Linked DNA regions of Homo sapiens. The protein of the gene in region 1 purifies or fractionates together with the protein of each later gene. This does not show direct contact. Each region holds a gene or a part of one and is shown in the gene's direction. Other genes may lie near its edges.

Region 1 (8,215 bases):
ACTCTTGCAGAGTTGGTGGCCTGGTGATGTCTGAGGACTCCCTTGTGTATCCAGCTAGGTTTGCTGGAATCAGATTGAGGTGGCTGGGATAACACACGTGCGCTTGGACTTCCAAGGCAGGCTGAAGGTGTGACAAGCTGGCTGCCATCACTTATTCTGCAGCCATCATCCTCTAGTGATGCCTGTGGGGAAGGACCCAGGGGCCCACAGGAAGCAAACAATTGCCAATCCTGGCAGAGGCTGAAGGTGGCAAGTGTGAGGAACACATTCTGAGGAAGAGTAAACGCATCCAGAAAATGGGCCCCATGAGCAGGAGGCATGTCTGGGCATTGACTTGAGCAGCAATTTCTGTAATTAAGTGTTGCCATTCTCTTAAGTATGATGGGGTTTTGGAAAGCACTTTGCAAAGGTGGAAGCCATTCCAGTGCTCCTGGTGTTTTACTTCTTTTTTGTTTTGCCCAAAGCCAAGGTTTCCAGCTCAGAGGTGGTGCTGAAGGTCCACAGTGGGTGTCCCTTTCCTCCATTTCCAGAGTCCATGACCAAAGCCTGGGGGCAGACTTGTGAGAGGCGGAAACCCCCATTGCTGCTGCAGTAGGGCCCAGGCTAGTGGGGACTCAGCTTGGGGGTGTCTGAAAACACAAATGTCTACTCCAGAGGTCAAAGGGCAACATTTAAATTCAGGGAGAAAAGGAGAAATGGGGAAGGAAGCCTATAGATTGAAAGAGCCTTAAAAGACATTTCAATCAATTGCAATGTGTGAACTTTACTTATATCCTGATTCTGAAAGTATAAACTGTAAAAAGGTATTATGAATGTATGAGACAGTTGGAAATTTGAACTCTAATAATATTTTATGACCATAAGATTACTGTTAACTTTTTTATGTGTGATAATAGTATTGTGGTTATGTCTATAAAAGGGTCCTTATCTCTTAGCGATACAAACTGAAATACAGACGAAATGACAGGATATCTTGGATTTGTTTCAAAATGAGATAGGGTGGGGCCTGTGGTGACTGCAGAAGCAGCAGAATTGGCTGTGGATTGTGGCCACAGAACTGGACAGTCATGGGGCTTCATTATACCACTGTCTACTCTATGACTCTTTAAGTTTCCCCACTGCAGAATGATTCTTTAAAATTACTGTTTGGGCTGGGCACAGTGGCTCATGGCTGTAATCCCAGCACTTTGGGAGGCCAAGGGGCACAGATCCTTTGAGTCCAGGAGTTCGAGACCAGCCAGGGCAACATGGCGAAACCCTGTCTCTACAAACAAAACAAAACAAAACAAAAAGCAAAAATTAGCTGGATGTGGTGGCACACACCTATAATCCCAGTTACTCAGGAGGTTGAGATGGGAGGATGGCTGGAGCCCAGGAGGTAGAGGCTGTGGTGAGCTGAGATTGCACCACTGCACTCCAGCCTGGGTGACAGAGTGAGAGACCCTGTCTCAAAAATAAATAAATAAATGAAATACAAATAAAAATTACTGTTGTCACAAAAAGATGGTGGGTAGGCTCTAAAAGGACAACGTCCCCCTAGGAAAAAGTTAATTGCCTTGAAAAATCTCTCCATACTTGTATGCCCAAGGAGAAAGGTCAAGATTAGTGTGGTTTGTCCTTCACACTGTCTTGTGTTTGGTTATCTTCCCACTGAAGGCCCTGAGAGCAGGCCTTGGGCTCTCAGCCTTTAGCAAGAAATAGTATCCTGCGGTAATTTGAAGGCATTCTTTTGTTTCGCTGTATTTATTTTATGGCTACTTCTATTATATTTTGCAAACTGATAATGGCTTTTTATTAACAGAAGAGACAAAGTTTGCTTCTTAAGTAAATATATGTAAACACTTTGATTTAAAGACAGGAAATAACAGCACAAGTGGCACTCAGATAGATATTATTTTTTAAAATGTTTTAGGGTGGTAGAAAGTAACAGAAGTTTGGGAGACCCTGATGTGGGTCAGGAGACATTTTCCTATCTGGTTTTAGTTATCAGGTGGGTAACCGGCTCACTCAAATCTGTGGTCTCTTCCAGCCCAGAGGGTCTCTGTGCCAGGACAGAAGGCTGTGCTCAGGCCATTGTCCATGGCTGGCTCCCTGCATCTCAGATAAACACTGACACCCAAAGAAGGGGCCCAATGCCAGGGAGTGGAAACAGCCCACAGAGAAGGTGGGGGTGGCCCCTACACATGGACCCCTGGCTTGGCCCCAAATACCATCTCATACCAGGTTTGTAGGCAAGTGAAATGGGGTCTGGGGGCAAGTTTAAGGACAACGTAAAGGGATAAAATCTCAGATGGAAAATGTTTTACCCATCATTTTGTTGCCTTTTTTTTTTTGAGATGGAGTTTCTTGTTGCACATGCTGTAGTGCAGTGGCTTGATCCCAGCTCACTGCAACCTCCACCTCCCAGGTTCAAGTGATTCTCCTGCCTCAGCCTCCCCAGTAGCTGGGATTACAGATGCATGCCACCATGTCTGGCGACTTTTTGTATTTTTAGTAGAGATAGGGTTTTGCCATGTTGGCCAGGCTGGTCTCAAACTCCTGACCTCAGGTGATCTGCCCACCTTGGCCTCCCAAAGTGCTGGGATTACAGGTGACAGCCACCGCACCCGGCCCATTTTGTTGTCTTCCATGGATTGTTTTCTGCTGGGAAAATTTCCTGATTGCCTTAAATCACCTGAAACGTAGTTGTTTAGCAAGCTGTGTCCACTCAGATGTGTTTTGCTGGGCCTGTTTGTATGATTCTTTTTTTGAGATAATTGTAGATTACATGCAGTTGTAACAAATAACAAGAGAGATGCTATAATATGTGCCCTTTACCCCGTTTCCACTAGTAGACATCTTGCAAAACTATGGGATAATATCACAACCAGGAAATGGACATTGATACAGTCAAGCCACCAAGCACTTCCATCCCAGGGACTCCTCATGTTGACCTTTTATAGCCACATCACTTCCTATGCCACGCCGCCCCTGACCCCACAATCACTCACCTGCTCTATACTTCTATAATTTTGCCAACTCAATAATCTTGTATAAAAGCAAGTTTACAGTATGTAACCTTTTGTGCTTTTGTAGTGTTTGTTTTCCAGTCCGTATAATTCCCTGGAGCTTCATCCAAGATGGATGTATTAGCAGTTCATTTCTTTTTTTGCTGAATAATATTCCATGGCATAGATGTGCCACAGTATTTAATCATCACCCATGAAGGACCTCTGTGCTGTTTCCAGTTTGGGCCTATTTGATAAAGCTGCTATGAATGTTTTATGTACAGGTGATTGTGGGAACATCACTTTTCATTTCTCTAGGATATATGTCCAAGAGTGAGATTTACCTGCCTCGCAAGACATATGTATATGTATGTATATGTGCCATATTTCATATATACATATGTGTGTGCATGTATGTGTATGTGTGTGCATGTGTGCCATGTTTTATATATATATATGCTTGTTTATGCATAAAATTTCTCTGGATGTATACTCAAGTGGGAAACACTCATTGCCTGTAGGGAAGGGTATTGGGTGATGGGGAGGGAGAGGAATCACTTTCACTTGGAACCCTTTTGAGCCTAAGTTTCAACCATCTGTCTGGATTACCTGTTGGAAAACAAATCAATCTTGTGCAACCCAGAAGACACCCACAGACTTCCTCACAAATACCCTCTGAGGCTGCCTTTTCCGCGCAAGTCTGTTTTTTGTTTCTTCAAAGGGAGCCCGTTGGAATTCCCCTCCCAGAGCACCTGGTTCCACACAGGGCCGACCCTCACCCCCTTAGTTCTGGTTATCTCCAGAGATTTCCCCCAACACACACATTCCCTGGTCTAGGGCCCTCAGGCTTCGAGGGTGACCCCAAACACCCCGCATCACCATCCAAAAGCCCCATGATCCCTGAGGGGCAGGCTCAGCCTATGCGGGCCTCGCTGAAGCCCAGTGCGGTGTCTATGCCCAACCCAGGGGCCGCCGCCTCCAAAAAGCCTTCCTAGCCTTACTGACATTTATCCTCTCCTTCCTGGTCACCCAGTGGCATCGTTGTGTGTCTTCCTGGTTACAGTCAGCATCCACTTCCTGCACTCCTCAGACAGCCGGCCAGTGCACCCTCACCCCACCCTTTCCTGACCTCCCGCTAGGCTGGGCCTTCTCTGCAAGGCTAGATTCATATTTTAGCGGCACCAAGCAGTCAGGTGCCTGCTGACGCATGCCTTCATGCAATTCACGACAGACAGCTAAAAGCCACAGAGCACAGCGCGGAATCTAAGGCCTTCCATTGGTGTGCAGGTGGATTCCGCGGTGCTAAACTTTCTTTTGTGGGTGTGGGGGCCGTGGAGGGGGTTGTGCTCTGGCAGCGTTGGCGCCCTAAATGACCTATAGGTAACCTCTAATGGCTTCCGCAGGGGGTGCAGTGCGGAGGACAAGAGCTTGGGGCTCTCTGGCTGAGTGATCTGGGGGCCATTCAACCGGTTTTTTCCTGGAGAAATGGGAATCTTAAGGCCTCTCTGGAAAGGGTGTGAGGGGGTCGAGGGGGAGCGGGCCCCGGGCCTTCAGCGCTTCAGCAGGTGGCTTCCCTTTGCGAGCCCGGGGTCCCTCTTCTGGGAAGCATGGGCTGGGACAAGGCAGGCGCCGGTTTTCTGCATCCCAAATGTCCTGGGGCATGTGTCCCTTCCTTGCTGACCGTGGGTCCGGGCCAGAGCGCAAGGTCCAAAGCCGGCGGCTTGGCTCCACCGCCAGGGGCAAATACCAGGGCGGGATGCGTGCTGCGGGGCGCCCCGGGGGCTCCCCCTTGGGACTTCTAGGGTCCAGGGGTCCCCGCGGGCGCGCCCCAAGCCTTCTCCCTCAGCTCCGGGGGCCCGGGCGCGCGCCCATCCCCCAGCCCCGCGTCCCTGCGCGAGGGCCGGGCTGGGGGTGGGGTCGCCGCGAGCTCGGCCCCCAGAGTTCCCGCGCTCAGGCCCAGGAAGCGGCGGCCGCCGACGGCCCTCGCCCCGCCCCCGCGCTCATCACCTGCTGGCCTGGCGCGCGCGCGGGCGGGAGCGGAGGGCAACGGGGCGGCGCGGGCGGCCGGGCGCAGGGTCGCGGGAGGTGACGCGCGGCGAGGATGGCGGCGCGGGGCCGGGGGCTGCTGCTGCTGACGCTGTCGGTGCTGTTGGCGGCGGGCCCCTCCGCCGCTGCGGCCAAGCTCAACATCCCCAAAGTGCTGCTGCCCTTCACGCGGGCCACGCGCGTTAACTTCACGCTGGAGGCCTCGGAGGGCTGCTACCGCTGGTGAGGCGCGCGGCCGGGCCGGGCGGGCGCCGTGGGCCGGGCTGGGCCTTCGCGCTGAGAGGCTGGGCGGGCGCCGGGAGGCCGGCAGAGCCGGCAGGTGCGCGGCGCGCTCTCGCTGGGCGCTAGGCTGCAGCACTCGGAGCGGCGGGTGCGCGTGGGTCGCCACCACTGCTCATGTCATGGCGCCGTCCGGGCCTCCGCGCCGCTGAGGCGCGAGCAGAGCGGGCGCAGCCTGGCGGCCGTGACCCGCGTGTTCTGGGTTGTGCGGGAGGAGGGGTGGCCTGGGGAGCGGCGTCTGGGACCGCAGGGCCCAAGCCGGCCGGGCCCGAGCCGGCCTGACCCGGGAGGGGGCGCCGGGGCAGCTGGGCCGCACTTCCCTTGAGTCTGGGACCCCAGCTCGGGTTTGTCTGTGACCGCCCTCGCCCTGGCGTGGGAAGTGAGTCTGTGAAACGAAGCGCAGCGCCTAGCGTCGCGGGGAGGAACGGAGACCCTGGAGGAAAGGAGTTTTGGAGGGAAGCCCAGGGGCCGCTTTACAGAGGCGAAGTGAGACGAGGCAGGCCGGCGCTTCCCCTCAGGCTGCCTCGGCGCGGGTCCTGATGCTCAGGGCATTTCCATCACCCTCCCTCTCGGGTTGGGAGTTCTCCAAGGGGTCGGATGCGGAGTGTGACCCTGTGGAACCACAGGGACCCATGAAACCAGAGACCGACACTGACAGGGCGGTGCAGTCCAGCCCTTCCATTTTGCAGACCAGGGGAAATGGAGCTCCTGCCCCTGGCAAGGCTGCGTGGGCACGACTGAGCGCCCTTAGCTTCCCAGCCCAGCCGTCCTAGGGGTGAAAAGATGGGCTTCCGCCCTTCCCACCCCCAGGATGCTCAGTAGTTGCTCCCTTTATTTCTGTTTCAAGACTGGGTCAAGGTTGAGGCAGAACGGGGTGTGACCACGTGACAGCCATGTGTGTAAGCCTGGACATGTGTGTGTCAAGCCTGTTTGAGTATTAGTCTGTGCGTGTATGTAAGTGTGATGCCCGAAGCTCAGACCAGCCAGCTTTCTCTGTTGCTTGCACTATTTGCCCTATTTCTTTCTTTCTTTTTTTTTTTTTTTTTTTTTTTTTGAGACGGAGTTTTGCTTTGTCGTCCATGCTGACGTGCAGTGGTGCGATTTCGGCTCACTGCAACCTCCACCTCCCGGGTTCAAGCGATTCTCCCGCCTCGTAGCTGGGATTACAGGTGCAGGCCACCTGGCTAATTTTGTTTGTTTGTTTGTTTGTTTTTAGAGTGCACTCCAGCCCTTGTTGCCCAGGCTGGAGTGCAATGGCGCGATCTCTGTCCACTGCAACTTCCGCCTCCCCGGTTCAAGCGATTCTCCTGCCTCAGCCTCCCGAGTAGCTGGGATTACAGGCGCCCGCCACAACACCCAGCTAGTTTTTTGCATTTTAGTAGAGACGGGGTTTCACTATGTTGGCCAGGCTGGTCTCAAACTCTGGATTCACTGTGTTGGCCAGGCTGGTCTTGAACTCCTCAAGACCAAGGAGAACTCCTCAAGCGATCCACCTGCCTCAGCTTCCCAAAATGCTGAGATTACAGGCGTGAGCCACCATGCCTGGCTTGTCTGGCCAATTTTTGTATTTTTAGTAAAGATGGGGTTTCACTATGTTGGTCAGGCTGGTCTCGAACTCCTGACCTCAAGTGATCCCGCCGCCTCTGCCTCCCAAAGTGCTGGGATTACAGGCGTGAGCCACTGCACCCGGCCTGCCCTATTTCTTTTTTGAAGGTCTCCTTCCTGAAATCAAGACGTACTAGGTCAGCCCATTGCATTTTGGTTTTAGTGCTTTATGCACCTGGAGGCTCCTATTTCTGGCCTGATGCCAGAGGCTGAACTTGGGCATTAGGTTTTCTGTATCCCAGTCTAAGGCCTAGTCTTGTGTGGGAAAATCAGCTGTTAGTCAATACTGTGGCGGGGATACATGCTCATTCTCTTGTTGAAGCTGTCTGTCCTCTCAGTATGTGGGCAAGAAAGAGGAAACTGGTTATTAAAAACAGCTGGCTTCAAGTGAATCCCTTTGGATATATTTGTGTGTTACTTTCTCTGAGATTCTATAGCTGTACTTTTTTCTTTTTCTAAACTAACAACACTTTTTTCCCCCCCAACATCATTTTCTTTTCTGAGAGGAGCTGAAGGGTGTTGGTGGATTTTAATTTACTTGGTAGGAAAAAGGGAAAAAACATTCTTAATCTCTGATGCATCAGAGAAGTGCTAAGTACCTTATAACGTGTTTGGCGTTGATCTGTAGTTTGTATTGCAGATGTGTGACTGCAGATGTGTGACTGCTATTCAAAGTGTCTTCTCAGAGGTGTTTGGAAATTGTGATTCCCCCTTAACTTGACAGGAAGACATTCTGTCAATCAAGCATTGAGAATATTTTCTTTATTTTTAGTATTGCTGTTCCTAGTGTAGTCGTCTATTGCTGCAGTTTTGAAGAATCTGCTCTGGAGATTTTAAGAGCTGGCCTATAGACATATATCCACAGTCCTCTAAACCTGGGAGGAACATTACCTCTTCATCCAGAAAGTTCATTGTTAAGTCTCTCAGACGAAAAAGAAAATGAGAATTCTGCCAGACCCTGTGGGAACATTTGCACATCCATTGAATTTGCAGCTGAGCTCTAAGTTTACAGAAATCACTGTGTGTGCCTGAGCCAACAGCTTCATGTTTACTTTTCCTATTTTTTTTATTTTATAACATCAAAATTGGACAGTTTTCGGGCCAGGGGAACCTTAGAGGTCACCTAGTTTAAACAGCCTGTGTTTCATATAGGAAAACCTGAGCTCCAGAAGGGGAAGTGATCTCTGGGAAGTCTTGTAGCGATGGACACTGAGTTGGAGCAGGAGCTGCTGGGACCCCTCCCTGTCCCACGCCATTAGACCTGGGGACTGGCAGCCTCTGGCTAATTTGCCAGGCTC
Region 2 (7,364 bases), on another chromosome or scaffold:
TTTTTCAATATCTACTTTTTAAGTATTTTTTTTTAAGTTTTCTTGATTTCTTTTGTTCCCTTTCGTTGGTCTTCATCTATAAGAACTGCTATTACTCATATTTTGGGTCTTTGCTCATTTTTAGTATTTGTCACTTTCTCCCTTTTATTTTTTTTTAAAAAAAGCAATCCTTAGGTTTGACTCTGATCTTTTTCTCATTTCTTTTTAATTTTTATTGCTAATTCTTTTTGGTGTCTAATTTCTGAATTTTCTAATTCTGATTTAGGTTATTCTTTCATGTCTTGTATCTTTTTGTTTTGTTTTGTTTTGAGATGGAGTATCGCTCTATTGCCAGGCTGGAGTGGAATGGCGCCATCTCGGCTTCCTGCAACCTCCTCCTCCCGAGTTCAAGCGATTCTCCTGCCTCACCCTCGCGAGTAGCTGGGATTACAGGCGCCCAACACCATGCCTGGCTAATTTTTGCCTTTTTAGTAGAGACGGGGCTTTGCTACGTAGGCCAGGCTGATGTTGAACTCCTGACCTCAGGTGATCCGCCCGCCTCAGCCTCCCAAAGTGCTGGGATTACAGGCATGAGCCACCGCGTCCGGCCTCTTGTATCATTTTCTTTTTTTTTTTTTTTTGAGACGGAGTCTCGGTCTGTCGCCCAGGCTGGAGTGCAGTGGCGCGATCTCGGCTCACTGCAAGCTCCGCCTCCCGGGAGCCTCCTGCCTCAGCCTCCGAAGCAGCTGGGACTACAGGCGCCCGCCACCATGCCCAGCTAATTTTTTTTTTTTTGTATTTTTTAGTAGAGACGGGGTTTCACTGTGTTAGCCAAGATGGTCTCGATCTTCTGACCTCATGATGCGCCCGCCTCGGCCTCCCAAAGTGCTGGGATTACAGGCTTGAGACACCGCGCCCAGCCTTGTATCATTTTCTTAAAGACTTAGCTCACTCTGCAATAGGATGCAGTTTGATTTGCTTCCTGGGCACATTTCTGGCATGCTTTCACTGTCTGATATTGTTCTATTCTTTATTCTCTTCATGTGAAATTGATTTTTCTAAATTTTTAGAAGGAAGTGTGGTTCAGGATTGCTTTTCTGATTTCACGTACTCCTCAAACGTTTGACTCCCATTGGACATCCTTCCTTCTGCACATTCATTTTTGCATGGTAGTTTTTTCATATAACCACCCTAAAACTCAGCTTGGCAAAGATAAAATGTCATCAAAAGGAATGTAGGGCAGTCCTATTGAAACTGAGCTCTACATCAAGCCCAGAGCCTGACAGGTGTCAAACGTCACTGTTTATTTCACATTTAAAATATAAAATATACCATGGTGTCCCTGTGAGTTTGCTGTGGTTCCCTGGGACACGTTAGCTCACAATTTGGGGATCACAATCCCAGGTGATGCTGATATTGCTGATCAGGAGACCACACTTGGATGTTTGGCTGTTTTTTGTTTGTTTTCCCCAAAAAACCTACAGGAAGTAAAAAAAAAAAGTACAAGAAGAAAGACTTTCAAAACTTGTACTGCCAGCCATGAAGAAAATTTCTTCCTTTGGACCCATGTACTCATGTATTTATCAATTAAAATGAAATTATTGAAATCAGTTTGGAAACAGTTGTATATGTGTGTATTTGTGGGAGAGCATGCTTGCTTGCAGATGCACACACACCTGCTATGTTTGTTGGGAAAATTAGTATGTGTTCATTTGCTGTAGTCTAGCTTTCTTACTGGAGGGAAAAACTACTTTGAGTAGACAGGAAGGAACAAAAAAAGCATGCTTGCATCCTCATTGACCTTAATGTTCAAGGACATTTGGTGGTAAATAATTGAATTTCCTTTGTAACCTGCCACAGTGAATTTGATTGACTGCTAGTTTGAGATGTGATTGATAAGCCTGCCAAATTTTATAAAGAAAACTTTATATAATGTTTACATTTATAAAATGTTTATGTTTTATAAAGAAAACTTTGTATCTCTCAAGAGAGGGAAATCCAGATTGCCTGGTACCAGCATTTATCATACAGAGAATCTTGGATGTTACTCCCAGTAAAATGTGCCCCTAATTTATACTATAATGAAAATAAAACATAGTTGACCTCTAAAAGAGCAATCAACTGCTTTCAAGTGAACTGCCACATAATGCTAATTAGTTGAAGATTATGCTCTGTTCTCCTTAATGAATTATAAAAAGCAAAACACTAAAAATTAACTCGGGAAGACAAAGTAACTGGTGCTTCCTGCATTTTTCCTTGTTCTTTGTCTTTCTAGGATCCCAGGAAATGTGGGCAACTCATGAGAAGGTAGTGCCCTGGATGGAAGTTAGCTGAACAAAATCAGCTTACTCTAAGCCCTTCTGGCCTCAGCCCCTTTTCTGGATTTTAAGAAATCCAGCAATTGATACAAGATTATAGAGTATACCACTCAGTGAAGTTCAGAGTTCTACTACAGAAAGCCCAAGCCTTGATTTACACTTAACATCTAGGAGAAATGGGAAAGAATCTAGCCATTACTTTCCCCAACAGAGGGATCTGTATAGATGAGATGACCAGCGTAGCAAGCAGCCTGCTATTACCTAATCTCTCACCCAGGATTAACATTAACATGGGCTTTCTAACATTTCACTTTTTACAAACTAGTCTTTAAGATCTTTTTTTTTTTTTTTTTTTTGAGTCTCGCTGTGTCACCCAGGCTGGAGCTCAATAGAGTCACCTCAGCTCACTGCAACCACCATCTCCCTGGTTCAAGCAATTCGCCTGCCTCAGCCTCCTGAGTAGCTGGGATTACAGGCGCACACCACCACACCCGGCTAATTTTTTATGTTTTTGGTAGAGGCAGGGTTTCTCCATGTTGGCCAGGCTGGTCTCGAACTCCTGACCTCAAGTGATCCACCTGCCTCAGCCTCCCAAAGTACTGGGATTACAGGTGTGAGCCACCATGCCCAGCCTAGTCTTGAGGTTCTTAAGATATATAGAAAAAGGAATGTAGATTTTGTTAAGCCTTGCTCTTTTTTTAAGACTGGTTTTATAAATTACAAAGACAAATCCTAGGTTAGAAGAGGCCATCAAGATCAAAGTATTTCTTCCTTAAAAGGATGAGTTTTCATTGTTAATCAGAGGCTAGTTTTAACGGTAGTACTTAAATTAACTGTCCTAGTAGAAAGCTGGAACCTGGAAACTCCTTTATTCTGCCTCTGTAGAAATGGCTTTATACGCCGGGCGTGGTGGCTCATGCTTGTAATCCCAGCACTTTGGGAGGCCGAGGCGGGCAGATCACCTGAGGTCGGGAGTTCCAGACTAGCCTGACCAACATGGGGAAACCCCATCTCTACTGAAAATACAAAATTAGCAGCGGGTAGAGGTGCATGCCTGTAATCCCAGCTACTTGGGAGGCTGAGGCAGGAGAATTGCTTGAACCTGGGGGTGGAGGTTGCGGTGAGCCGAGATTGTGCCATTGCACTCCAGCCTGGGCAACAAGAGCGAAACTCCATCTCAAAAAAAAAAAAAAAGAAAAAAGAAATGGCTTTATACACTATTATGGCAACAATTGAGCTCCTGGTTTCGGTGGACAGTAAATGTTTATCTTACAGTTGTGCTGGGCGAGAAGTCAGGAAAAGGAGCTGAGTGTGTAACTGTGATTTCCTTTTCCGTAGTGTGTTCCATGGGAACCGGTACAAGCAGACTCTATAGTGCTCTCGCCAAGACACTGAACAGCAGCGCTGCCTCCCAGCACCCAGAGTATTTGGTGTCACCTGACCCAGAGCATCTGGAGCCCATTGATCCTAAAGAGCTTCTTGAGGAATGCAGGGCCGTCCTGCACACCCGACCTCCCCGGTTCCAGAGGGATTTTGTGGATCTGAGGACAGATTGCCCTAGTACCCACCCACCTATCAGGGTTATGCAATGGAACATCCTCGCCCAAGGTATGCTGGATGCTTTTGTGCCTCTGCAGTCAAGTTTGCTGTGACTGCCTTTCTGCTTCTGCACATCCACAGTGCACTGTTTTATGTGGAAGGAAGAGGTGTGGGCAGATGGAGGTGACTGCAGCAGCATGGAGAGCTCCTAGAAGAGGTTAAGACAGGGAATCATCTGGTTTTCACTTTTTTTTTTTTTTTAGAAAGAAAAAAGACACTTTAATTGTTCTTGGATAGTCTACAAACATGGAAGGTGTAAAGAATAAACCACGAGTTACTTGCTTTAATTGTAAAAACCAAGTCAGGTGCAGTGGCTCACACCTGTAATCCCAGCACTTTGGGAGGCCGAGGTGGGTGGATCACCTGTGGTCAGGAGTTCGAGACCAGCCTGACCAACATGGAGAAACCCCGTTTCTACTAAAAATACAAAATTAGCCGGGTGTGGTGGCGCATGCCTGTAATCCCAGCTACTCGGGAGGCTGAGGCAGGAGAATCGCTTGAACCCAGAAAGTGGTGGTTGCAGTGAGCTGAGATTGCGCCATTGCACTGCAGCCTGGGCAACAAGATCGAGGTTGCAGTGAGCTGAGATTGAGCCACTGCACTCCAGCCTGGGCAACAGAGTGAGACACTGTCTCAAAAAAATATGTATATATATATATATATATATATACACTTTGTTACAGTAGTAAGGACTTCTTTCCTGGGTCTGCCAAATTAAAAAACAGATGTGTCAATCAACTCTATGTAGCATTGCCTTTTATGTAAGCAGTTGAGATTTTAAGAAAAACAAGGGCCTGATTTTTTTTTTTCCTGGAAAATAAGGGGAGATTCCGTGACTTACCAATCTTTGATTCTTTTTCCCTAAGTAGGAAAAGCTGCCTATTTAAAATAAGTTCCATTCATTCTGAGTAGTGTCCATAATAGTCAGGGTTAAAACTAATACTTGGTGTTAAATATTTGGTGTTTAAAAAAACCAAAAAAATTTTAAAAGAAAATTGGCATTTATTTCATTTTATATAGCTTAGATCCCTGGCACTGCAAAGCAGTTTCCTTAAGTAAGATCTTAATATCCTGGAATATAGTTAACATGAAATCATTTCGAAACAAAAGATCTGTTGTTTGCTTCATCCACATAGTGAGAGGTGATTTAGTTTGGATGGGGTAATACAGTTTGGACAGAGAGCCACTCCAAGCATTTAAAGCAGAGGAAGCATTCTGAGGGTCTTGAGTGATGCCAAACCTCCTGGGTACTTTGAAGTCACGGTTTTGTAAGAGCTGACAACTGACTAGCTTTTTCTTTTCAGCTCTTGGAGAAGGCAAAGACAACTTTGTACAGTGCCCTGTTGAAGCACTCAAATGGGAAGAAAGGAAATGTCTCATCCTGGAAGAAATCCTGGCCTACCAGCCTGATATATTGTGCCTCCAAGAGGTGGACCACTATTTTGACACCTTCCAGCCACTCCTCAGTAGACTAGGCTATCAAGGCACGTTTTTCCCCAAACCCTGGTCACCTTGTCTAGATGTAGAACACAACAATGGACCAGATGGTTGTGCCTTATTTTTTCTTCAAAACCGATTCAAGCTAGTCAACAGTGCCAATATTAGGCTGACAGCCATGACATTGAAAACCAACCAGGTGGCCATTGCACAGACCCTGGAGTGCAAGGAGTCAGGCCGACAGTTCTGCATCGCTGTTACCCATCTAAAAGCACGCACTGGCTGGGAGCGGTTTCGATCAGCTCAAGGCTGTGACCTCCTTCAGAACCTGCAAAACATCACCCAAGGAGCCAAGATTCCCCTTATTGTGTGTGGGGACTTCAATGCAGAGCCAACAGAAGAGGTCTACAAACACTTTGCTTCCTCCAGCCTCAACCTGAACAGCGCCTACAAGCTGCTGAGTGCTGATGGGCAGTCAGAACCCCCATACACTACCTGGAAGATCCGGACCTCAGGGGAGTGCAGGCACACCCTGGATTACATCTGGTATTCTAAACATGCTCTAAATGTAAGGTCAGCTCTCGATCTGCTCACTGAAGAACAGATTGGACCCAACAGGTTACCTTCCTTCAATTATCCTTCAGACCACCTGTCTCTAGTGTGTGACTTCAGCTTTACTGAGGAATCTGATGGACTTTCATAAATACTTGCTTTTGTCTTTTTAATCACAGGAGTCTATTTTTTTTTTTTTTTTTTTTTTTTTGAGACAGAGTCTCGCTCTGTTGCCTAGGCTGGAGTACAGTGGCCTGATCTCGGCTCACTGCAAGATCCGCCTCCCGGGTTCATGGCATTCTCCTGCCTCAGCCTCCAGAGCAACTGGGACAACAGGCGCCCGTCACCACGCCCAGCTAATTTTTTGTATTTTTAGTAGAGACGGGGTTTCACCGTGTTAGCCAGGATGGTCTCGATCTCCTGACCTTGAATCACAAGAGTCTTAACAGGGAATGTTTCAGGAAACAAATAGGATAAGACAATGCCAGAGGAAGGATAGAAACATGGGAAGTTTCTATCATTTCATTTTCTGCGTTTCCAGCATGCCCTTGGAAAAGACTCCCTTTAGTCCCTTTTTCAATTAAAACCTATGGTGAAAAAGGCGTTTGCACTCCAATTTTGGCTTGTGTTGTTTTCTTTTCCTTAATATTACATTTTGATCATTTAAGGGCATTAAATTGGCTTGTTTTGGTCAGGTGTGGTGGCTGCTCATGCCTGTAATACCAACACATTGGGACGCCAAGGTGGGAGAATCACTTGAACCCAGGAGTTCGAGTCCAGCCTGGGCAACATGGCACGAGACCCCATCTCTATTTCTAAAATAATAATAAATTCGGTTATTTTGAAGCTTTTTCAATTTGAGGATGCTATAAAAACTTAGACTTGTTGCTTGAATCTTCCATAATAGTATGTAGGAGCAATTTCTCTAAACAGCATTTTAAGTTATTTATTTGTGGGTTTTTAAAATGTCAACAAAATGCATGGCAGTATTTATTTTTTATATCTTCATATAAAATTAAGTAAATTATAGCATTATGAACATTTTAGAACCATGCAAGAGAAGTTATAGAGAAAGTAATTTATGGTGATTTTCATAAAGCTTTAAAATATTTTCATTTGGGCTATAACAAAATGAGTACAAAGGAACTATTTAGCCTGGAGGGGCTTTTGTTATTTAAATGTCAGATTTCTTTGATACATTCTTCAAAAATAATCCTTGTCCTGCCTCTATGTTCCATTATTGTGTTTCTTTTTTTTTTTTTTGGAGACAGAGTCTCACTCTGTTGCCCAGGCTGGAGTGCAGTGGTGTAGTCTCGGCTCACTGCAAGCTCTGCCTCCCAGGTTCACACCATTCTCCTGCCTCAGCCTCCCAAGTAGCTGGGACTACAGGCGCCTGCCACCACGCCCGGCTAATTTTTTGTATTTTTAGTAGAGACGGGGTTTCACCATGTTAGTCAGGATGGTCTCAGTCTCGATCTC

The links.
Region 2: the proteins of NUP210 (region 1) and NOCT purify together in Homo sapiens (affinity purification with mass spectrometry; 2 studies listed by BioGRID and IntAct, with this or other methods). This does not show direct contact.

What each region holds. Positions count from the first base shown.
Region 1 is NC_000003.12:13,417,100-13,425,314, reverse strand, and holds the start of NUP210 (nuclear pore membrane glycoprotein 210 precursor), read left to right. Parts: upstream 1-4,992; 5' UTR 4,993-5,088; coding exon 5,089-5,255; intron 5,256-8,215. UniProt on the Homo sapiens protein: Nucleoporin essential for nuclear pore assembly and fusion, nuclear pore spacing, as well as structural integrity.
Region 2 is NC_000004.12:139,039,439-139,046,802, forward strand, and holds the end of NOCT (nocturnin), read left to right. Parts: intron 1-3,635; coding exon 3,636-3,905; intron 3,906-5,200; coding exon 5,201-6,036; 3' UTR 6,037-6,501; downstream 6,502-7,364. UniProt on the Homo sapiens protein: Phosphatase which catalyzes the conversion of NADP(+) to NAD(+) and of NADPH to NADH. Shows a small preference for NADPH over NADP(+). Represses translation and promotes degradation of target mRNA molecules.